Homo sapiens: one gene and its partners. The protein of the gene in region 1 purifies or fractionates together with the protein of each later gene. This does not show direct contact. Each region holds a gene or a part of one and is shown on either strand. Other genes may lie near its edges.

Region 1 (3,500 bases):
GGGTGTGGTGGCTCATGCCTGTAATTCCAGCACTTTGGGAGGCTGAGGCAGGCGGATCACCTGAGGTCAGGAGTTCGAGACCAGCCTGGCTAACATGGTGAAACCCCGTTTCTACTAAAAATACAAAAAATTAGCCAGGTGTGGTGGTGCACGCCTGTAATCCCAGCTACTTGGGAGGCTGAGGCAGGAGAATCACTTGAACCAGGGAGCTGGAGGCTGCAGTGAGCCAAGATTGTGCCATTGCACTCCAGCCTGGGCAACAAGAGTGAAACTCTGTCTCAAAAAAAAAAAAAGCAAAAAGGAAACACTTCTCTTTCTCCCCCTGTATATTTGAGTGTTGTCAGTGAGCATTAGTGTATTCTGACTTTATAGATGATGATCCGTAACTGCCATTCATTTTAATATTCAAATTGCCCCAGATTTGGTTAGTGGGAGCCCCTTCAAGCTGGCTTCTGTGGCCTTTGGACATACCCCATCACTTTTTGGGAGTACTTCCTCACTTTCTGGCACACGAAGATAGTCTGGGTAATCTGGACCTTGTTCTGCCCCATCCCTGGGGTTGGCCATTTTTCTGAGGAGTCCCGGTTCTTTCTAGGGAAGAGTAGGTGTTGAGGCACTAAGAGACCGTTTTCTTTTTTTTTTTTTTTTTGAGACGGAGTCTCGCTTTGTCACCCAGGCTAAAGTGCTGGAGTGCAGTGGCATGATCTCGGCTCACTGCAAGCTCCGCCTCCCAGGTTCACGCCGTTCTCCTGCCTCAGCCTCCCGAGTAGCTGGGACTACAGGCACCTGCCACCACGCCCGGCTAATTTTTTGTATTTTTAGTAGAGACGGGGTTTTGCCGTGTTAGCCAGGATGGTCTCGATCTCCTGACCTCGTGATCCGCCCACCTCGGCCTCCCACAGTGCTGGGATTACAGGCGTGAACCACCAGCCTGGCACTAAGAGACTCTGTTGCTACTTGGGTGTCATTGCTTTGAGGCCCTTCCTCTGGAGAGAGCTAGGAAGCACACATATTTTATATGTTTTAAAATTCTATTTATGTTTTGTAGAGATGGGGTCTTACTATGTTGTCCAGGCTGCTCTCAAACTCTTGGGCTCAGGTGATTCTCCTGCCTTGGCCTCACAAAGTATTGGGATTACAGGCATGAGCCACTGCGCCTGGCTGACATATTTTACAATAGTGAGTTCACATTGATACCTCTGATTCCATTCCAATATCACCAGCTTTTTCCTGAGCATTCCTCATTTCATCTTTCTTTCTTTCTTTCTTTCTTTTTTTTTTTCTTTTGAGATGGAGTCTCACTCTTGTTGCCCAGGCTAGGGTGCAATGGCACGATCTCGGCTCACCACAACCTCCGCCTCCCGGATTCAAGCTATTCTTCTGCCTCATTGTCCCAAGTAGCTGGGATTACAGGCATGCACCACCACGCCTGGTTAATTTTTTGTATTTTTAGTAGAGACAGGGTTTCTCCATGTTGGTCAGGCTGGTCTCAAACTCCCGACCTCAGGTGATCCTCCCGTCTTGGCCTCCCAAAGTGCTGGGATTACAGTCGTGAGCCACCGCGCCTGGCCCTAATTTTGTATTTTTAATAGAGATGGAGTTTCTCTATGTTGGCCAGGCTGGTCTCGAACTCCCAAGCTCAGGTGATCTGCCCGCCTCGTCCTCCCAAACTGCTGGGATTATGGGCCTGAGCCACCGCACCTGGCCCTATTATTATTTTTAAATAAAGTTCACTTGCTTCCATTTGCATTCAGTTTTAGTTTTCTCTCCTCTCTTTATTGATTTAATTTCCTTTATGAATATGTAAAACATTAACAAGGTTCTCAAATCAAACTATTCCAAAAGGTCTCCTAGGGAAACGTCATTTCCTCTCCATCTCCTCCACCTCATTTCCACCCAGTCCCCGTAGGTTACTAAATATTTTCTTAGTTTCTGCTTATCTACAGAAAGAGCCTTTTGATCCAGCTTATCAATTTGACTTCACACCTCTTTAAAATCCCTTTCATGGGCAGTCGCTAATGAGGAGGGTCCACATTTGGAAGGCTCAAGAGCTTTACTCCTTATTGGAGAAGCACGGGGCCAAAAGGAAAGACTTCGAGCAATGGGGTTGTAAGAAGTGGCACTGATTTTTTTCTCCTCCCCCCACAGGAGATCCACCACCTGCATCACCTGGTCAGCACCCTTATCCTCTCCTCCACCTCTGCCTACGCCGTCAGGTAGAGACTGCGGGTATCCTGGGATGGCGGGACCCAGATGACTCAGGACGCACCTTTCCATAAGGCAGTGATGGGAAGGTTCAGGACTCATGAAACACGTCAGAACCTATTTTTTCTCCCATAATATCCCCTTTTTCTCTCTCCCCGCCACCAGTTCCCCACCTCCACTGGCAAGGTCCTGTTCTGTCTTTTTTTTTGAGACAGAGTCTGGCTCTGTCGCCCAGGCTACAGTGCAGTTGCGCTATCTTGGCTCACTGCAACCTCTACCTCCCAGGTTCAAACAATTCTCCTGCCTCAGCCTCCCGAGTAGCTGGGATTACAGGTGCCCGGCACCGTGGCTGGCTAATTTTTGTATTTTTAGTAGAGATGGGGTTTCACCATCTTGACCAGGCTGGTCTTGAACTCCTGAGCTCATGATCTACCCGCCTCTGCCTCCCAAAGTGCTGGGATTACAGGCATGAGCCATTGCACCCCACCGGCCCTGTTCTTTTTCTTGGGCATGTAAATTAACCTCTACTGACCCCATCTAGCACATAAGAATGTATCTACTGGCTGGGCGAGGTGGCTCACGCCTGTAATCCCAACACTTTGGGAGGCCAAGGCAGGCAGATTGCTTGAGCTCAGGAGTTCGAGACCAGCCTGGCCAACATGGTGAAATCCCATCTCTACCAAAAATATAAAAACTTAGCTGGGCATGGTGGCGGGTGTCTGTGGTCCCAGCTACTTGGGAGGCTGAGGTGGGAGGATTGCTTGAGCCCTGGGGGCGGAGGTTGCAGTGAGCCGAGATTGCACCACTGCATTCCAGCCTGGGCAACAGAGTGAGACTCCGTCTCAGGAGAAAAAAAAAAAAAAAGCGCATCTAGCACATATATAGTGCAGCAGGGTTCCTGGAAGCATCTGGCGAATTTGTTATTCGTCAGCATTGGTTGCAAGGGACAGAGATCCTCTCGGGCCACCTTCAGATAGAGGCACACTGTAAGGAGTTGAGGAGCTGAAGCTGCTTTAGGTGTTGGCTTCTCTCTCCCTCTCTGGGGCTCTCATGAGCTCCATGCTCTCTCTCTCACTCCATCCCTGTCTCTTTCTCAGCTTCGCCCTCTTCTTTTGCTCCAAATGCTTTCTTACCTTCTACTAAGTTCTTCTCTGGCTTCTGTTTTCTCATGGTCCCTGATCGACATCAGCTGTGGCCTGGGTCGGCCTTAGGGTCTCTGTGATTTCTCTCTTTCTCTCTCTCTGTTAAAACAAACGTGGCAAAATTCACCATTTTAAAGCGTAGAATGTAGCAGC
Region 2 (3,500 bases), on another chromosome or scaffold:
CAGAGATTAATGTACATCAGCCCTCCCCATACCTGCAGGTTCCATATCTGCAGATTCAACCAAATGGGAATGGAAAATATTCAAGAAAAAAAAAAAAACAATAAAAATACCAATACAACAATTTAAAATAATACAAATTTTAAAAGCAGTATAACTATTTACATAGCATTTACACTGTATTAGGTATTATAAGTAATCTAGAGATGATTTAAAGTATACAGAAGGACGTGTGTACATAGGTTATACGCAAATACCACACCATTAGTTATCAGGGACTTGAGCATCTGCAGATTTTGGTATCCTGGGGGAAGTGGGGGTAGTCCTTGAACCAATCCCCTGAGGATACTGACGGACAACTACATATGAAAGCATAATGTAAATTGGAAAGAGCTATGTAAAAAGACTAAGAATATTATTGCTTTCAAGTCAGACATTGAGAGGCATGAACTTTCCAAGGAATCTGGGCACCCACAAACCAGAAACAATGATGGTTTTTAAGAAGACACTACAAGGCAGGCTGACTAAGGAGGCACACCCCTCATAAAACCACTCTGGGGTAGGGTTGGGGCTGAAGCCTCAGGAGTTCCTCAGGGCACATGCAAGCAGGTGGTTTATAGGGAGGCAAAAATCAAGGGATAGGGAGGGTCCCAGAAAGTCCCATGAGATGAGGGTCCCATTTAGAGTCCATTTGACTCAAACAATTCTGATTGAAAAAACAGGACCTGGGACTCTGGTCAAAGACAGGCCGAACCACAGTGGCCAATAATTAGTTTACTTGTTCACTGACAGAAAAAGAAACTGATGTCCAGAGGGTTTAAGTGACTGACCCAAGATGTTTTGTTACAACTAAATGATCTTAAGCTAGAACTTAAGTTTCATTCCTTACTTATTTCCTATCATTTAATAGCTGGCACTTTGGGAGTGAATATGCAATGCAGCCTCAATAGTCAGCCCAATTCAGCAAAAGAAAGGCTCACAGAGAAGTAGACCGTACCATTATTGAGCACTTACAAGTGCAAGATACTGTTCTAAATAATTTATATATCTCATCAACAACTCACTACTATCTTAGGAAATGTATTTTATTTTACCTATTTTCCAAATAAGGAAACTGAGGCTCAGACAAGTCATGTAACTTGCCTGAAGTGAAAGGCTAGCTACTGTCAGAACCAAGATTTAAACCTGAATCACTTTGACTCTAAAAATTGCACTTAACAACCAAACCAAACTGCATAGCTGTTACAGCAATTTTCTTTTTATCTTGGCATCTGTAAGAGAAGTAAGTCTGGCAGCACCATGAGTCCCATATAACACACAAAAAGCTGACACTCATAATAATTCTGACCCAGGGCTTCTAGCTAGTCGGGGGCAGAGCCAAACCAGATCGCAGGCCCTTTGTCTCCAAATTCTGTGCTGTTCCATAGAGAGCCCAGCTTCCAGAATATAAGCTCCATGAGGGTAGAGACTTTTTCTTCTTCACAGCTGTATGGCCAATCACCAGAACACACAGCAAGCACTCAATAAATAGTTAATGAATAAAGGAATGAAGTCAAGCTGCCATGGTTTGGCTGTGTGACCTTGGAAGGGCTTCTCATCCTCTCTAAGCCTCAGTTTCCTTATATGGTGAATGGAAGGTGACAATAATACCCATTTCCTGGGTTGAGGTAAGGATTAAACCAGACCATTCATTTAAAGCACTTGGGATGGACTGGAACATAATGAGCAACCAAAATGTAATCTATTATCATTATCATTATTACTATTATTATTCATTGACAGATTTGGGCTCCTTAAGAATTTTTTATTTTTTTCCACCCTGGTCAGATGATGTTTCATAGTAAAGATACAGAATAGAGAATTGAGAGTTGGTAAATCTGCTTCTAGTTTCAGATCTGCCACCATCTAGCCGTGTGACCTTGGACAAGCCTCTTCAGTTCTCTGTATTCTCCTCAGCTGTAAAATGAAGGACTAAACTATTCAAATCAGTTCCATAAGCATTCATCAGGCACCTTCTCGGAGTAAGACATCATGCTCAGCCACCTATAAAATTCTATGATCCTGAATAGTATCAATGGGAAAATATCAGAGCAAAGCAAAATAGTCTGTTTGTGGCAAGGTTGAAGAGAGAACCCAAATAGCCGACTGCATTACATCATCTCAATGAGCAATGTTTGTAAATATCCAAAGTGTTTAATTTTGAGACACTCTTGAGAAATCCTTTGCCAATAAGAAATTGGCAGATATGGTTCTATTAACACCTATCAGCCTTGAACCTTCCAAAAATTAAACATTTAAAGTCACTTTGCACCTTAGTCAAATGGCGTGCTTCTGGAGAGAAATCTGGGAAGATCAAAGTTATTAACACTCCCGATGGCAACAGTTTAAGAATAGGATGTGTTAAAAAAAAAAAAAAAAAAAGACATATCTGGTTAAAACTGCAGGGGGGATTCCAAGAGCAAATGCAATGCATCTGGACAGGACATGGAGGCCAGTGGCCTATTGTTTACAAAAACAAGCCTGGATTATGAACAGTGACAAGAGGCCAAGACCTCAATAATAACTCACAACCACACCTCTCTCAATCCCAGTTCAACTGAAGCTATCAATCAGTCAACTCCCCCATCTCTGTAATAAACCTACCAATATTTGCAGCCAAGTGGATAGAAGGCCCCTTAGGGCACCTCCAGCACTGACCAAACTAATGACATAAAAAAGATCCTGTAGGTACAATGAGGACTTCAGACTACCTTCCAACCTTCCAAGAGATAAGGGAGCTGCCCATTTCAAACTCTACACCTACCCCCACCCCCCAGCAATCATTAGAGGGGAGCCATGGCCCTTCCCAAGTCCTCTCTGATAGGAAAAGGTCTCCTTGCACTGGTGCAGGGAAAGGAGGGGCCCCTCCCTCTGTACTCTGAAACAAAGGAAAACCCAGAGCTCCAACCATGTGGTGTAACATTCAAGGCCACCCACCTCTTCCACTCCCCAGCTAAGGTCTCAATGGGCTGGAGCCACATGGCTCTTTCCAGTGACTGACCAGGAAGGGACAGTGCCTTGCACAAACACATGCTGCAGCTCTTTAACAGGCAGGAACCCTTCCTATGGGAACTGCTGGTTTAAAAAACGCTATCTGAGTAAGGGCTCTTATTCATGAGTCAAGTCAGTCGACTAGATGAGAAGACAGGTCACTTGGTTTCTCCTAGTCCACATTTTGCTTTACCCTTCACATTTTTCAGGAGAGGGAAATGGGGCTTTAAAAGCATGTCTTCCGGAGCAGAGGGCCACAGCACAGAAGGGTTAAACAATTATGTCTTCCCATTTTCCAGAATCAGCACCAACCGGCTACCCTAACATCCTCCCAACTCTATTCAGATTTAGGTGAGGGCGGAGACCGGGCGTGGGTGGCCTTATTCTCTGATCTCTGATTGTATGCAGGCCGACCAGAGACCAGGCAGGTACAAGGTACACCCAAGGTGGCAATGGACTTTTGGTGCCAATGC
Region 3 (2,451 bases), on another chromosome or scaffold:
CCTGTCTCTAGTAAAAATACAAAAAATTAGCCGGGCATGGTGGCCGGCGCCTGTAGTCCCAGCTACTTAGGAGGCTGAGGCAGGAGAATGGCGTGAACCTGGGAGGCAGAGCTTGCAGTGAGCCGAGATCGCGCCATTGCACTCACGCCTGGGCGACAGAGCAAGACTCTGTCTCAAAAAAAAAAAAAAAAATTAATGACCTCTGCCCCTAACTGAACAAAGCCCTTCATCTAAGGCCACCCTTTGGTTGGCAGCCTTAGCCAGACATCTGCTTCTGGTCAAATCAATGTCTTGTCCACAGGGAGGCCCAGCGCTGTTTCTGGTTTTAGCTGGATGCAGGGTGTCAGACATGGCAGGTACTACGGTCTACCTGGCGGGTATCAAAGAGTTGGTCGACGTTCTCACAACAACCTAATAGGGACCAACCATGGAAGGCCAGTAGTAAAGGAGTTTGAAGTTCCCTTTCAGAAACCAATTAACAACCCCAAAGAGACAGTGGGTAACATAAAAGAGCAGCCATAAAAATATACAGTTTTAATAGAAATATTAAAATAATCATTACACTTCCTCTCATTGCAGAAACCATGAAAGAATATGCCTTTTGTAATCAAAGTAATTTTTTATCATGCAAAAAAGTATTTTGTTATGACATTCGTAAGTGGAGACTGTATTTCAAAACAAGTTTATACAGACTTCAAAAGGTCTAAAGTCAAAGTGAAATATATTTAAATATGATTAGTTACATCTAATGCAGCTGGCATACTCATATTCACAGTTTATAAAGTAAAAAAACTAAACTCTTCATGTCGGCTCTGAAATAGATGCATTTTCATTCATACATTCGCTAGTTAGGTCTGTTCTTCTAAGGAGGAAAGACGAGATATATGAGATATTTTTTAAAGAACAAACTCAACATATCAGCAGCAAATTTCAGTTAAACTAAATTGGAAACCAATGTTCTGTGTAACCAAAGTGCAAAGTCAGTTCCCCAGCTCAGAAAGAAAATTAAGAGTATAAACTGAAGGCTTAAGAGAACTTCAGAGAGCACACTGTGTGATTAATACATAAATATTAAAAATTATCCAATTTTTGATTTAAGAACAACACAGTTTGGATCTAGTCATTAAAACATATGCACAGGTGTCAAAGGCAAGTAACACTACCACCTAAGGTTATTCGGAGGAACTGTGAAGATGTAGCACGGACCTCTAAGGTGTCTAAAATCCCTTCTGATGGAAAGGTTATGGAACACTATCTGCCAAAAACACTGAAAGCACCACTTTTATATTTAGATCCAATGCTGAGTGATATAGTCACTGTTGGGATAGGTTTTTATTTGGGAAAATGGAGAGGATTCTCAAAACAGATTCATGGCTTGCATGCAGTGACACCCTATCAAGAGCCTGGAAAGACACCATGAAATCACCTCAACTCAAGTGGTGGGCCCACCTACTCATAGTCAGTGTTACACTAGCCAGCTCTAGGGCTCTGACAACATAATGAGTTTTGAGGTAGTATACTTTAAAGAAAAAAAGAAGAGTTTATTTTAAAGCAAATAACTAAACTGTATTTTAACTTAGCACAATTAACTGCAGCATATTTACTTCATAGCCCCTTAACATGTCACTTTTACCAACAAAGCTTTTTCCTTCATATTCTAATCACAAAAATTTCTCAACAATTTATAACAATCTGTAAATCTGACCTTGCAATAAATAGTCATAAAACGTTATTTTTATTACTATTATTATTTTTAGAGACAAGGTCTCGCTCTGTTCCCCGAGCTGGAGTGCAGTGGTACAATCACAGCTCACTAGCCTCAAGCGATTCTCCAGCCTCAGCCTCCCAAAGTAGTGGGATTTCAGGCATGAATCACCACACCTGGCCTTGAAACATTATTTTTAAAGCCTAAATTCCAGTTGGTATGGTACCAAAATTTAGTTTAACTTCAAAATTCACAGTACTGCCGAGAAATGGGCGGGTCCTGAGGTTCCAGAGAAGTGGGGAGTGAATTCATTCCTGGTGGTTTTATTCTGGCAGCATGCATGGGAGATCACATGAGTTAGAGGGCTGTGGCCTGGTATCAACACTTCAAGCTGTTGTACTTTTACTTCAAGTTGAAACTTTTAAAATACATCTGTCATACAGATGTACAAATATATGTAAATGCAAACATATATACACACTTTTTGACAAAAGAATAATGGTAACACACACGAACCATTTTTGTAAACAGATTCTATTTGGTTAATAGAAGTATTCCTTCCATCAACCTATCGAAGTCCAAACCAACTACGAAGATAGGATGCTCATCCAGAAGAACGGGAAGCATTTTCTTCCTCATCTTTAGAAAGTAAAACAAAGAAAAAAAAAAGAAAAAAGAGAGTATTAAAATTTCTCAATGTAAAATCTATATTTTAGAACCACTCTACAATATAAGCAAATAATGTC
Region 4 (2,545 bases), 900 kb from region 1:
TTACCAGTTTAGCTTGTTATGGGTTATTTAGTTAAGCTGCATGTATAATCACACATATTTGCCTCAACCCTGTGTGCGCCTGGCCTGCAATTTCCCACTAATTAGACTTTTTAAAGACACGTATGCATTTATCTACTCAAATTTGCATCATCCGTTTCCCTATTGCCAAAGCAGATGTACACAACACCCACCCACCTCCATTCCAGGAAATAATTTGCTTATTATCACTGAGTTATTTTTCCACTGGAAAGTTGAAACTGGGTGGGAGGGGGTACAGATGGGGTCTTGTCCTACTGAAGCGAGAGCCGTCAGAACAGTGCAGACAGAAGTGCTGGGTCTCCGGCAAGAACAATGGGGCTCAAGGGAGGAAACGGACTCCAAAATATCTGAATTACAGCAGCAAATCCACCAAGAACCCCAAACCCAACACCCCAGCTCCAGCTCCCATCCTGGATCTAGACACCCACCAGCTCCCCCAGGAATCAAGCCTCCGGACACGATTCCTCTGAAATGGCTTTATTTCCCCAGTGTGAGGAATCTGTGAGTGGTGAGGGGTCTGTGGTCCCTGTTACCCCAAGGACCCTGCAGCCTCCAGATGGATAACGGCCCGGGATCCAGGCCTTGATCCTCCCAGGCTGGGACTGGTTCTGGGAGGAGCCGGGCATGCTGTGGTTTGTAAGGATGACACTCCCAAAGGTGGTCCTGACAGTGGCCCAGATGGACATGGGGCTCACCTCAAGGACAAGGCCACCAGGTGCGGGGGCCGAGGCCCAGATGAGCCTTACTCTAGGAGCAAAATCCCCTGTGGGGGCTTCTCCTTGAAGTCCGCCAGCAGGGCTCAGTCTGGGGGAAGAGAGAAAAGAGAGAGCAGGTGATTGGCAGGGAAGGGGAGAGACAGAAAAACTGGGAGACTGGCAAAAAAGAAGAAAGACGAAGGCGAGAGTACAAAAGGCTCAAAGGAGACCAAGAGAGTGACCCAGGGACACTGGAAAGGTGCCGAGAGAGAAAAACACGCAAAAATACAGGAACAGAGGCTGGAGATGCACAGGCTGATGCTACACACTGACCTTTGGACCCAGGCAGGTCAGGGGGTGGCGGCCCACCTGGGGGCAGCAAGGCAGAGCGGCTCAGGGCCTCGGCCACCCACCCCAGGACGCGGCTACACTGCTGGACCTGCGGAATGGGAGGAATGTCAGAGCGGGAGATGGGACCCCTGCCACAGTCCCCCAGCCAGGCCCCAAGGCCTCACCTCCCGCTCCAGCACTTTCAGGCGCTGTTCGTACTCGCGGATGTGTCCCAGCTGTTTCAGTGCCAAGTCCACCCTGAGAAGGGAGGGCCTCTTACCGGGGGCACCCGCAGCCCACCCACCCCCAGGGCTCTGCCTGCTTCCCGGGCCTCCTCCCTCTCTCCCTCCCTCCCAGGACCCTGCCTTCAGCTGAAGTCAGGATCCGCCCCAGGCCAGAAGCCCCATCCCCGACCAGGCCCCGCTCTCACTTCTGGGACGTGCGCTTCAGACGCTCGGAGTCGCTCTCCCGCTTGTCCCTAGCGCGTGCCAGCAGAAAGTTCTCCTTATGCACCGATTCCCACGTTAGCAGCTTCCGCTCGGCTTCCTTAGAAAGGTAAACCCCTGCAGGGGCGGGCGGAGTCAAAGGGCTCAGGCCACGCCCCTTCCCAATCCCAGCTGCCCCTTCCGACACCCTCAGAACACGCACGCTATCCCAGACCCAGCCCCTGGTGATTCGAGAACATGCCCCGCCCCTCACCCGTAAGCACTGCCCCTCAGTGCTTAAGCTCCGCCCCTTGTTGCTTAAACCCCGCCCCTCGCTACCTAAGCCACGCCCGTTAGTCATTTGGGGCATGCCCCCTTCCCCTCGCCTTCCAGGCTCCCGGTCCCCTATATTTCTCCTTTTTAAGCCAAGCTCTGTTCTTACGGAAATGCTCGAGGGCCGGGGAGGACGGCTGGGGGCTCCGGGGTCGCCTGCACAATTGCCTGAGCAGGAGGCGCAAGTGGGAGATGACGATAAAGGGCGGGGCCAGCGCGGGCCGAGAGTGGAATTCCCGGATGAGGCGGTAACGCTGCGCCTTCCAGTAGAGATCGCTGTTGCCCTGTACTTTGCCGAATGTGTAACTGCAAAGGCCAGAGGTCAAAGGTCACTTGAGGTCAGGGCCCAGCCAGGGGCAAGGACGAAGGTTAGATGCCAGGCAATAATTGTTCAGTCTATAGCAGCAGACAGAAGTCAAGATCACTAAAGTCAGAGGTTACAGGATGCGATTAGAAGTCAGGTTAGAGCCAAGGGCGTTTGGTCACGCCTGTAGTCCCAGCACTTTGGGAGGCCGGAGTGGGCGGATCACCTCAGGTCAGGAGTTCGAGACCAGCCTGGCTAACATGGTGAAGCCCCATCTCTACTAAAAATACAAAAATTAGCCAGGCGTGGTGGTGGGCACCTGTAATCCCAGCTACTGGGGAGGCTGAGGCAGGAGAATCGCTTGAACCCAGGAGGTGGAGGTTGCAGTGAGCTGAGATCGTGCCACTGCACTCCAGCCT
Region 5 (3,500 bases), on another chromosome or scaffold:
ATAAACACACATACATACACACATAATGATTCTTATTAAGCAAAATGATAAGTGCTATGTCAAACTTATGACCTCAGTGTCGAGAGAGTTGGAGAAGCTTCCTTGGGATGGTCTTGAGGATGAACAGTAACCAGGTTAATTTCTCTCATAACATATTAAAGACATGGATTGCATACTGCATGTCCTAGAAGGAAACCTTATATGGCTGGGAAACTATAAAATGAAGAATCATAAATAAATATAAAGATAAAAATGTAAGGAAGAAAAAGGATTCTTGCCAACAATGCAAAACAGAACAGCTGTGAGCCAGTGTGCCCAACTCAAAAGACAGTAGGTGATAGGCTGTTCTTTGGAACCTGTTTCATTTATTCACTGGGTAGGAATTTCTGTTTTCTTTCCATATGTGTCACTTACTTTACACTGAGCACAAAGGAAAAATGTGATTATCACTGTATCTTTGATATAATTCCATTCAAATACCTCTCTCTATATAATGGTTTTTTACATACTGAAATTATATATTTTTCACGAAGTGTTTTTGTCAATTTCTCAACTACTCTAGTGGAATCACTGTCTTCAAAGACAACCTTTGCCTTAGCACTTGAGCAGGACCAAATGTTAAAACAAATAAATGGCTAGGAAAAAGTTACGATATGAGAAAATATGACCTCGAATGGCTGGAAAATGTATGATTATGCAAAAGATTTCTATGCCGCAGGACAATTTCAAAATGTTTAATGTTTAAAATAAAATTTTTTTATCCATAAAGGACCTCTAGGATATTGTAAATCATTTTCTTCTTCCAGAATTCCATTAAACAATAAAGGCCATGTTTTAAAGGGCAAGAGTGTTGTGGTAAGAGGAGGTGACTCTGCCATTAGCAGCGGATACAAAAGTGGCATGTGCAACTGCTTCTCTCCAGCCCCCGTTTGGAGAGAATGAGCGGTCAGCTGCAGGCACGGTGAACTAATTACATAGCTGTTCCTTCCCTACCACAGACATTTGGTTAACCACAGGACTTCTTTGGATACTCCTAGGGTACTCCTGCCCTGACATTGTTCAGGAGAAGAAAAGGCAATAGGAATTAGAACAAAAATTAGAATTTTGATTGTCTTGTTTTCTTTTCTAAATTAATATTTTTAGGCACAAAGTGAAATAGATATAAATGTATGCTTAAAGGGCACCAGAAGACCTATAAATAGAAATTGCTAGAAGTACCACTAAATAATTTAATACCAACTTCAATAGCCACTCTTTCCTTCAGCTAAGAAAATAAACTGAGGGGTGGAGGGGGAGTATGTGCTTCAGAGGACACTGTGGGCAAGATCCCAGTGAGATTCAGAATCAGCAGAACCCCAGTGTCGTGGACAGGCTTAGTGATTTCAGAACTGCTGTGTGATCAGTGTAGGCACTGAGACCATGTGGTCACAGTGGGGAATTAATTACCTGTAGGAAACCACCTCGTGCCCATGACCTGGATTCCTAAGGGGGCTGGATGTCAGGTACTTCCCTCACCATGATCCCTCCAGATGGCACCCTGCAACTACTTTCTCTTTCCTGCACTGGTGCCAGTGAGGAGAAGTTAGGATTCTTAAAGAAATCCTGAAAATACGTCATTATCTCTCTTTGCAATTGGACTTTACGGCAAATAACTAGTATTCCCAAACCTGGTCTATAGGTCCCTTCTTGAGCTCTTTTTGTTATTTATGCTAGAATGGCAGGCACTTTTATCACAAGAACAGTTTTTAAACCCATGGAGTATTTGTGTATTTTTGATTTCAGTGACCTCAATGGCTTTAATTTTGAATATGAATTGATAGAACTTTCAGTAATAAGGCAGTTGAAAAGCCCTCTAGTCCCCAGTTGATGCCTGTCATGAATATAAATGTTAGAGTAATGCTATTTAAATGTTTTGACTGACCCTCGAAAAACACTTTCAACCAAATGTGATGCTAAAAGCTGAGGTACAACAAATAATTGCAATTGTGGCAAGAAACCAAACCAAACGAAATAAAACCTTGAAATTTTAATTTTAATTTAAAAAGTGGGTGGGGGAGACCATGACATAACAGTAGAACAATATTTGCCAAAGATAATGATCACAGATATGATTAATTATGATAGTGCCTCCGCCTGTCTTTTCTGTACCCATGATCCACAGGACTGGAGCCATCCCCAAGGTGAGTGTCAGGATGTTTTGAAACTGGGACACACTGTACAGGGGTGAACAAAGGAATCTGCTTTTCAATACCACACTGCCTGCTGCAACCAAATGTCACTGCAGGGCTTAACAGTGAGTAAATGCTGTGTGTGTAAATGCTTCTTCTATGTTTAAAAAACAGGAAACAAGAGGCCTTTGAGCATAAGTTAGTAATAATGACTGATGAGTTTAATTTACCTTAAGGGAAGGGACCCAGAAAAGTTTGGCTTATTAGACAACATGTCTTAAGAAAAAAGGATGCCAAATAACATTTTGAATAATGCAGTTTTTTGAAAGGTGGAAGCTCACCCCTGCCTCTGGATGCTATGCATTTTGAGCAGGTGTTAGCGGCAGTAGCAAGGGTTAAAGGACAATACTTTCCATCTTTCAGGACCCATAAGGGAACATATTAAAATAAAAAACAAAAACAAGCCTCTCTCCTACAGCACTCTCGTTTTGGCCATCTCCTGCTCGGCTGCCACTCTAATTGGACTTGAAGTGCTGCCTCCAGGAAAGTGACTCAAGAACCAGCTGGAGCAGAATGCAAATAAGCTGGTAGGGGAGAGAGCCCAGGGAAAGAAGATGAAACAAAAAGAAAAACAAAATTAAGGAGGAAAGGGGAAGAGGAGAACAGAGACCATCTGAGTATAGTTCACACTTTTTTTTTTTAAACAAATAAGAGGAGGTTCTAGTACATCATCAGGTTTTTAATAAGCAATCTGGAACCCCAGTAAGGGACAAATAAGACACTATTTACAAATAACTTTCTTTAAGCCAAGTGTACCTGTAAAACAAAGTTAAATGTACAGGTGCCTAAGAATGAAGTTCATAAAATGTAAAAGGTAAAAAGAGCCATATTAATGGTAACGTTTAATCTCTGTTTTTATGCTGTGGCTACTACAAGCATATTTTCCAAATGAAGGCTCATTTCTATGGTCTAATGGTCCCAGGAATATTATTTGGAGATGAAAATGACTAACTGCTGCATCAGTCAATTTGCAATGAAACAGGCTCTTGAAAGTTTAGGTTTGTGTTACCTGTTCCTTTTTTGAAAGTGTGTCAAGTCTGAGGGAGCACCTGACAACCACTGACTTGATACAAGCAGTCTGTCCAGGTCCTTTCCTCCATGTAGAAATAATGAAGCAAGACACACTCCCGGATACACACAAGAATAAATATTGACATTAACATTTATCTTTATAAGTGGGGAGGATCTGGCAAATTGCTATGAAGAATTCATTTCAGTAACTATTTGGACTAGTAAAGCTAACAGCTTTGAAAGGCTTAAAAATGATTTTAC
Region 6 (3,500 bases), on another chromosome or scaffold:
ACTCCAGAACAGCTGAATCAGGTTCACAGTCCTATAAAAAACGTTTTAAAAGATTCGGGCCGGGTGTGGTGGCTCACACCTGTAATCCCAGCACTTTGGGAGGCTGAGGTGGGCTGATCACCTGAGGTCGGGAGTTCGAGACCAGCCTGACCAACATGGACAAACCCTATCTCTACTAAAAATACAAAACTAGCCGGGATGGTGGTGCATGCCTGTAATCCTAGCTACTCAGCAGGCTGAGGCAGGAGAATCGCTTGACCCAGGAGGCGGAGGTTGTGGTGAGCCAAGATCGCGCCACTGCACTCCAGCCTGGGCAAGGGCAACAAGAGCGAAACTCCATTTCGGAAAAAAAAAAAAAAGATTCATTGATATCCCATATGCTTGCTGGCAGGAGATAGTTGTCATTTTTTAAACTTTTTCCATTCAAGAAAAAAGCTCATTGTTTTTGTTTTAAAAAAAATATACTGTGGCTTTTAATTTACATTTCACTGATTATTAGTGAAGTATATGTAGTAAAAAATGTAAGGCAGCAGTCTAATTTCAATCCTTTTAATTTATTGTACTGGTCAGAGCAGTTTCCATTTAATCCTAAGAAAGCCCCATACTCCCTTTGTCTCTAAGGGAAAGGAGTCTCCTTTGTCTGGTAAATCAAGGAGTCAGTTTTGACATAGTTTTATGAGGTATGACTATAAACTTCAAGGAGTTACTTTTGTTTTTCATTTCTATTTTTTTTTCTTTTCACTGCTGGTATGAAAGATTTCTAATGTAATAAACTATAAGAAAAATAGGCTGGCTGTGGTGGCTCACGCCTGTAATCCCAACACCTTGGGAGGCCGAGGCGGGCGGATCACCTGAGGTCAGGAGTTCGAGACCAGCCTGGCCAACACGATGAAACCCCATCTCTACTAAAAATTTAAAAATCAGACGTAAGTGGTGGCGGGCGCCTGTAGTCCCAGCTACTAGGGAGGCTGAGGCTGGAGAATCACTTGAACCTGGGAGGCAGAGGTTGCAATGAGCCAAGATCATGCCACTGCACTCCAGCCTGGGCGACAGAGCAAGGCTCTGTCTCAAAAAGAAAAGAAAAGAAAAGAAAATACATGTGATGTGGCTCCTCACAAGCAAAGCAGAGAGGCTAAGAGTACTGCCTCTAGAATGAATCTTAACTCCAGCTCTGCTAACTTCTCTGTGACTCTGGGAAAATCACTTCTCTCTGAGGTCTGGTTCCTCATCTCTGCCTTTGGACAGCAGGACTTCCCACACAGCAGTATCATAAGAACTCAAGAAGATTCACATAGTTTCAGGGTTTAGCAAGGCCCTCAGTAAATGGGGTCTGTTAGGACATTCCAGTAGCTATAGCTGACCCTGAATCATACCGAGGCTGAGGCCTGCTAGGATCTGAGCAGTCCGAGAAGAAAAGCCTGGGCAAGGGTGAGCCTACCTCCCACTTGCATCCCACAGGCCGGGCAGATGATTTTCCAGGGGGCATCCAAGGTACCTTGGTTTTCACCCGGACACTCCGCCGCACATTCACAGTGTCCCCTTTCATTCCTCGCTTGTGAGATTTCTGTGGAAAGGGACAAACCCAGGGTCACTTCCACACCCAGCTGGCCACGGTGCCACGCTAGTGACATCCCTCTCCGACTAGCAGAGTGCCTCTTCTGACTAATGTTACTGCTGTTGCTCCTGGATGACAGGCCTGCCTACCTTCTAACCAGGAAACCGGCCTCCGAAAGAGTGTGTTTGTCTCCCAAACCTTTGGAGTCAGAGTGCGAGGAGGCTGGGCTTAGCAGGATCACCCAGATCCACAGCTACTACCTCGCCCCACTGGCATGCTCCTACCTGGCTGCTGGTCGCTGATGGTTTCGGGAGTTTTTTTATGTGGACGTGGACAGGGGTGTTCTCATCCACGTGAACATGTAAGGGGGGAGTTGAAGAGCGGTCCTTCATGGTTGGCTTCTGGCAGGTGGGGGAGGACAACACAAAAATGGTTGATCTGTGGATGAGTAAACTGGGCATAAAAACAGAGCTCACAGCCTCTGGGGGCCACCAAAAAGCCTAGCCACCAAGCGAGCAGGACAGCTACCAACTACTGGCATGCAGGCAGGGAGTAAGGCGGGAGTATCATTCAGCAGGCTCCTGCAGAGATCCCAGCAGAAGACCACAAGGGAGATTCTGGTCCACTCAAGAGAGGGTCTGCAAGACCCACCCGTTCCAGAACAGATCCCAGACGCCGGCCCCAGGGTTCTTAGGGCTGGATCTCCTCTAAACCTGCTGGAATGCACAGCTCCTCCTTGGATTTAGTGAAGCACAGCGGAAAGCAGGCGGATCCTTCTACACAGTGATCTCAACTGGGCATGCAGATTGGCGTGGGAAACACACAAAATGCTCAGGGTGCAGAATAAATCAGAGAGCAGGCAGATCAAAGAACAGGAAAACAGAAAGCTGAAGGAAATCCTAAGGATGAGAAGGCTGTCTAGATTCTAAAGAAAACATGAGCAAGGCAGAACCACAGCTACAAACCCCTCAACCACCACCAGCTCTTATCCTTCCCCTCATTCTTTAAACTTTTTTTTTCTCTTCTTTTTCTTTTCCTTTATTTTAAAAATCTCAAGATTTTAGGATTTGGCTGGAAGAATAAGTCTAAGACAATTTCCTCACACCCGGCAGCCTCACCACAGGCAAAAATGATGATCATAATTAAAAATCAGCAGAGTATGTATAACAGCACCTAGCAGAGCAACTGGGCGGCGATGGTGCCCAGCAGGGTAAGGCACCTCCTAGAAACGGTGTGCAAAAGCATTTTTAGCAAGGTGACCAAAGAGGGCTGCTACGTGAGTGCATCACCTACCGTCACAGTTACACTGGGTGCGCCACAAGGTGCTCTCAAGACCTTTTTCTGCGTGAGACTCGTTACTCCGTTCTTCCCACACGATGGAAACCTGCACCCAGGCACAAGAACCAGATTGTAAGCAGAAAACTAGGGCAATCTTATATTTCAGATCTCATGAAATTACACACTGACTACGGTAGCTAACATGTTCATGGCTAGGAAAACCAGCCTGGAATTCCTTGACTCCCCTGAGATGAGCACCAGATGTGCGTGGTGTGCCCAGCAGTGGGATGGAAATAGGGTGACAGGCATTTGCAGGCTGGACTTTTAACATATCGTCACATCACATGTATTATGACCCTTGCTGAAAAGCCTAGCTGACATCCTGTCAGATGACAAAAAGCAAGCAGCACATGAACAGAAGCCAATGTGCTGGTTTGGCCAAGGGTAGAAGCACCCAGGACAGTGCCTGGAGCAGAGGCGGCCCTGGAGAAAGATGCAGTGAGTGAGTGACAAAAATAGAGCATTAGTGGCCACAAGCCATGTCTCATGCCTGTAATCCCAGCACTTTTGGAGGCCAAGGCAGGCAGATTGCTTGAGCCCAGGAGTTTGAGACCAGCCTGGGCAACATGGCAAGACCCCATCTCTACAAAACATACAAAAATTAGCT
Region 7 (3,500 bases), on another chromosome or scaffold:
GAGCAAAGGCTTCCTCTGATGTGGGGAAACAATGGATTCTGGCTGAGATATAACAGAAATGTAGAAATATTTATTAAGAATCCACATCTTTTTTACATAGACACTATGCTTGCTAACATATATTAGAGAAGAGCTACTTTATATTCAGTTTTCAAAACCTATATCCATAGGAAGTATGAAGACCTTAATTATAAACACTTTTAAATTCTTAATATACATTTACATACGTTCATCACATATGTTCACTGATCATATTTTGGTCACTTGTACAGAAAAAATACTGTATAGAAATACATTCTGTACATTCATAAAAGTAGGGTAAAATTACTTACCCACCTGCTGCCACTGGCACTTACCTACTCAAAATGAAGTAGGGGACGTGGAAAGATAACAGGACCAGTGGCCAACAGGGGAATACAAGTAGAAAGGCAAAGTAAGGGTTACTGCATAGTAGCATAGCTACTCTCAAAGCTGTTCAAGAGGAAGCACATTTCATGGCACTTCCCATAAGATTAATGGGGAGTACCTAATTTGTAACAATGACATACAATGTATTACATTTCATAACTTACAGTATATATGAGTAAATACCTGGTTATCAGATAAATTTTTTCACCTAACCAGTAATCTTTCCCAACAGTAAAACAAAATATTGGCATTTGTAAATTGCTTATACTATAACACAAAGCTATAAAACAACACACCTAACTCAAAACTTTAAAAATGTTAAACCATACTAAAATGTATTCAGGTATTAAAAATCTATAAAAACCAAATTTTAAAAAATCTATAAAAAGCAGAGGATGATGACTGACAGGCTTATGTTAAGACAAGGGAATGAAGGCAAAAAAGGTTTCAATTATTTGTGAGAGAGGACAATTTGAGTCAGAAACAAAACAGCATTCATGATTTCAATATATGGCACTACTGCTTGTGCTCCATTTTACTAAATCAGTTTTAAAAACTGTCTAATTTTGAAAATGTCTAAAAAATTATGATTCAAGACTTATTATTCATTTTTCAACCCATTATCCAGTTAGATAGAGACAAAGGAAGCACAATTTCTTCCAATACTTCTCTTCGTCTGTCATCTGAATGGGTAGAAGTCATAATCTGGAAGGTAAATCATGTCTAACTGGCCCACTTTACCTCTTCGTGCAAATTCCATGGGGACAGATAAAGTTGGAAAATGACACAAGGCACAGAATCCTCTATACACGCCTAACCATTAGTTGAACAAAGCCACTTTGTTCAACCAGTAAGTCCTCTCAATAAAATAAAAAGGAACTATTACTTTTTTTTTGTTTTTGAAACGGAGTCTCGCTCTGTCGTCCAGGCTGGAGTGCAGTAGCGCGATCTCGGCTCACTGCAAGCTCTGCCTCCCGGGTTCATGCCATTCTCCTGCCTCAGCCTCCCGGGTAGCTGGGTCTACAGGCACCCGCCACCACGCCCGGCTAATTTCTTTTTGTATTTTTAGTAGAGACGGGGTTTCACCGTGTTAGCCAGGATAGCTACGATCTCCTGACCTCGTGATCCGCCCGCCTCGGCCTCCCAAAGTGCTGGGATTACAGGTGTGGGCCACCGTGCCCGGCCGGAAATATTACTTATTTTAAGCATGATTTTTTTAAACTTTTAAAATTTGACACTTAAACAACTTAAAAACGTGCTATCCTTTAAGTCAATAAGAAGTAGACTTCAACTAATGCAACGACAAAAATCAACAGATGCTAAGAACTTTTATACTTTTTTTTTTGAGACCAAGTCTGTTGCCCAACCTAGACAGAATCTGTTGTCTCCAGTTCTGTTGCCCAAACTGGAGTGCAGTGGCACAATCTTGGCTCACTACAGCCTCAACCTCCTGGGGTTTAAGCAATCCTCACACCTCAGCCTCCCGAGTAGCTGGGACTACAGGTGTGTGCCACCACGTCTGGCTAATTTTTTATTATTTGTAGAGATGGGGTTTTGCTAGATTGCCTAGGCTAGTCTTGAACTCCTGGGCTCAAGTGATCCTCATGCCTCGACCTCCCAAAGTGCTGGGATTACGGGTGTGAGCCATTGTGCCTGGCTGACTTTTATACTTTGATTGAGAAGAAAGAGAAATTATAAAATCCATCTTATGTCTTGGGATTGTGTGTAGAACACAAGAGAGTAAAGAACAAGATAACTACTGGGATTCTTCCATTTCTCTATTCCATGATTTTTTAGAAACAGTGTTTATCTCAAGATTGTGTAATGTTCTAGAGCAGAACAGAGTGAAGGATGCGATGGCTACCAGAGGTTCTTCACTCCCTCTTTTCATGATTTTCTAGATACGACTAATTAAGAGCTATGAATGTTCTTCACCATATGCTTACTTTCCCCCACCTATAGATTGCAAAAGTTATATAGGTTATATAAATTATTAAATATACTAGCACACAACTGTCATCTGTTAGTGTTTGGCAGGTGTCCAGTGTACTGCAAGCCGGGTTTAGAATCAGATGGAATGGATATGAATATTTACCATTTATAATTCTATGCCTTTAGTTGTATGCAAAAGTGACTAGCATAGTATATGGAATATAGTTGGTGCTCAATAAATGTAACTTTCCCTTTAATAATAGATTAAGTAGTCAATATATCCTACAGCTTAATATACTTACAGCTAGACTGGTGAATATTTAATTTCCTGTAAGAATGGAAAACATCACTATTTGCATGATATTCTGAGAGTATCAGTGCTATAATATCTGCTAATATTTACCTGAACAGTTATTAGTACATGTCAAGAGTTTTCAAAATGCATTTATAGCAGATACGTCTATCATAAAGAAGGCATTTGAAAGGGAGTAATGGGAGCAAGCATTTACTGGGTAACTACTGCACGTTAGGTTCAGTATCAGACACTCTCTATATATTATCTCATATAATCACATGGTAACATACAGAAATAATCATGATCTCCAAAGTACTTTAGTTCCTCAAAGCAGATAGGCAGAATCATACTACATATTAAATCTAGCACATAATGTATTTATTCCTTCACTTAGCAGTTAATTGACTTTAGTAAGTACTAAAGAGAAAAGCACTTTTTTTTCCTATAAATGCAACATAGAAATGAAAATAGGTAATAAATATTCTCCTTTATGGAATAGAAAATAATCATTTAAGAAATAAAATAAAAAATGAACTCACAGTGTAAATCCTCTGGAAATCACTTCGGTTTCTTGAATGAGACGTAAAGCTTTTCTCACGAGGTTAGTAAAAGCTCGGCTGTTTGTGGCCATATCTTCCAAATGAACGCTGTATTTTTTTAGGGTCACTTGTAGTTTGGCTGTCCTCCATAATCTCAAAGCTCTTATGACCAGATACACAAATAGAATCACTCCCCATACCAGCCAGGAAGACACAATCCACCAAGTGGGAAGCATAACGAGCAAGCTAATGAAGGCAAATAGCATTGAGAGATCCCTGGGAACAAGAAAGGAAGAAAATGATATGCATCAGATTAGAGAAAGAAA

What was found.
Region 2: the proteins of ODAD1 (region 1) and SRGAP2 purify together in Homo sapiens (affinity purification with mass spectrometry; one large-scale study listed by BioGRID and IntAct). This does not show direct contact.
Region 3: the proteins of ODAD1 (region 1) and RGPD5 purify together in Homo sapiens (affinity purification with mass spectrometry, with the first as the bait; one large-scale study listed by BioGRID). This does not show direct contact.
Region 4: the proteins of ODAD1 (region 1) and TRPM4 purify together in Homo sapiens (affinity purification with mass spectrometry; one large-scale study listed by BioGRID and IntAct). This does not show direct contact.
Region 5: the proteins of ODAD1 (region 1) and COG5 purify together in Homo sapiens (affinity purification with mass spectrometry; one large-scale study listed by BioGRID and IntAct). This does not show direct contact.
Region 6: the proteins of ODAD1 (region 1) and ODF2 purify together in Homo sapiens (affinity purification with mass spectrometry; one large-scale study listed by BioGRID and IntAct). This does not show direct contact.
Region 7: the proteins of ODAD1 (region 1) and VEZT purify together in Homo sapiens (affinity purification with mass spectrometry; one large-scale study listed by BioGRID and IntAct). This does not show direct contact.

The regions. Positions count from the first base shown.
Region 1 is NC_000019.10:48,304,972-48,308,471, reverse strand, and holds part of ODAD1 (outer dynein arm-docking complex subunit 1), read left to right. Parts: intron 1-2,148; coding exon 2,149-2,216; intron 2,217-3,500. UniProt on the Homo sapiens protein: Component of the outer dynein arm-docking complex (ODA-DC) that mediates outer dynein arms (ODA) binding onto the doublet microtubule. Involved in mediating assembly of both ODAs and their axonemal docking complex onto ciliary microtubules.
Region 2 is NC_000001.11:206,206,541-206,210,040, reverse strand, and holds part of SRGAP2 (SLIT-ROBO Rho GTPase-activating protein 2), read right to left. Parts: intron 1-3,500. UniProt on the Homo sapiens protein: Postsynaptic RAC1 GTPase activating protein (GAP) that plays a key role in neuronal morphogenesis and migration mainly during development of the cerebral cortex. Regulates excitatory and inhibitory synapse maturation and density in cortical pyramidal neurons.
Region 3 is NC_000002.12:109,855,755-109,858,205, reverse strand, and holds the end of RGPD5 (RANBP2-like and GRIP domain-containing protein 5/6), read right to left. Parts: intron 2,345-2,451; coding exon 2,310-2,344; 3' UTR 501-2,309; downstream 1-500.
Region 4 is NC_000019.10:49,209,792-49,212,336, reverse strand, and holds the end of TRPM4 (transient receptor potential cation channel subfamily M member 4), read right to left. Parts: intron 2,129-2,545; coding exon 1,932-2,128; intron 1,628-1,931; coding exon 1,495-1,627; intron 1,323-1,494; coding exon 1,250-1,322; intron 1,174-1,249; coding exon 1,068-1,173; intron 844-1,067; coding exon 839-843; 3' UTR 501-838; downstream 1-500. UniProt on the Homo sapiens protein: Calcium-activated selective cation channel that mediates membrane depolarization. While it is activated by increase in intracellular Ca(2+), it is impermeable to it.
Region 5 is NC_000007.14:107,231,921-107,235,420, forward strand, and holds part of COG5 (conserved oligomeric Golgi complex subunit 5), read right to left. Parts: intron 2,293-3,500; exon of another isoform or gene 2,162-2,292; intron 1-2,161.
Region 6 is NC_000009.12:128,459,006-128,462,505, reverse strand, and holds part of ODF2 (outer dense fiber protein 2), read right to left. Parts: intron 2,940-3,500; coding exon 2,849-2,939; intron 2,349-2,848; exon of another isoform or gene 2,207-2,348; intron 1,994-2,206; exon of another isoform or gene 1,957-1,993; coding exon 1,840-1,956; intron 1,565-1,839; coding exon 1,439-1,564; intron 1-1,438. UniProt on the Homo sapiens protein: Seems to be a major component of sperm tail outer dense fibers (ODF).
Region 7 is NC_000012.12:95,266,307-95,269,806, reverse strand, and holds part of VEZT (vezatin), read right to left. Parts: intron 3,451-3,500; coding exon 3,175-3,450; intron 1-3,174. UniProt on the Homo sapiens protein: Plays a pivotal role in the establishment of adherens junctions and their maintenance in adult life.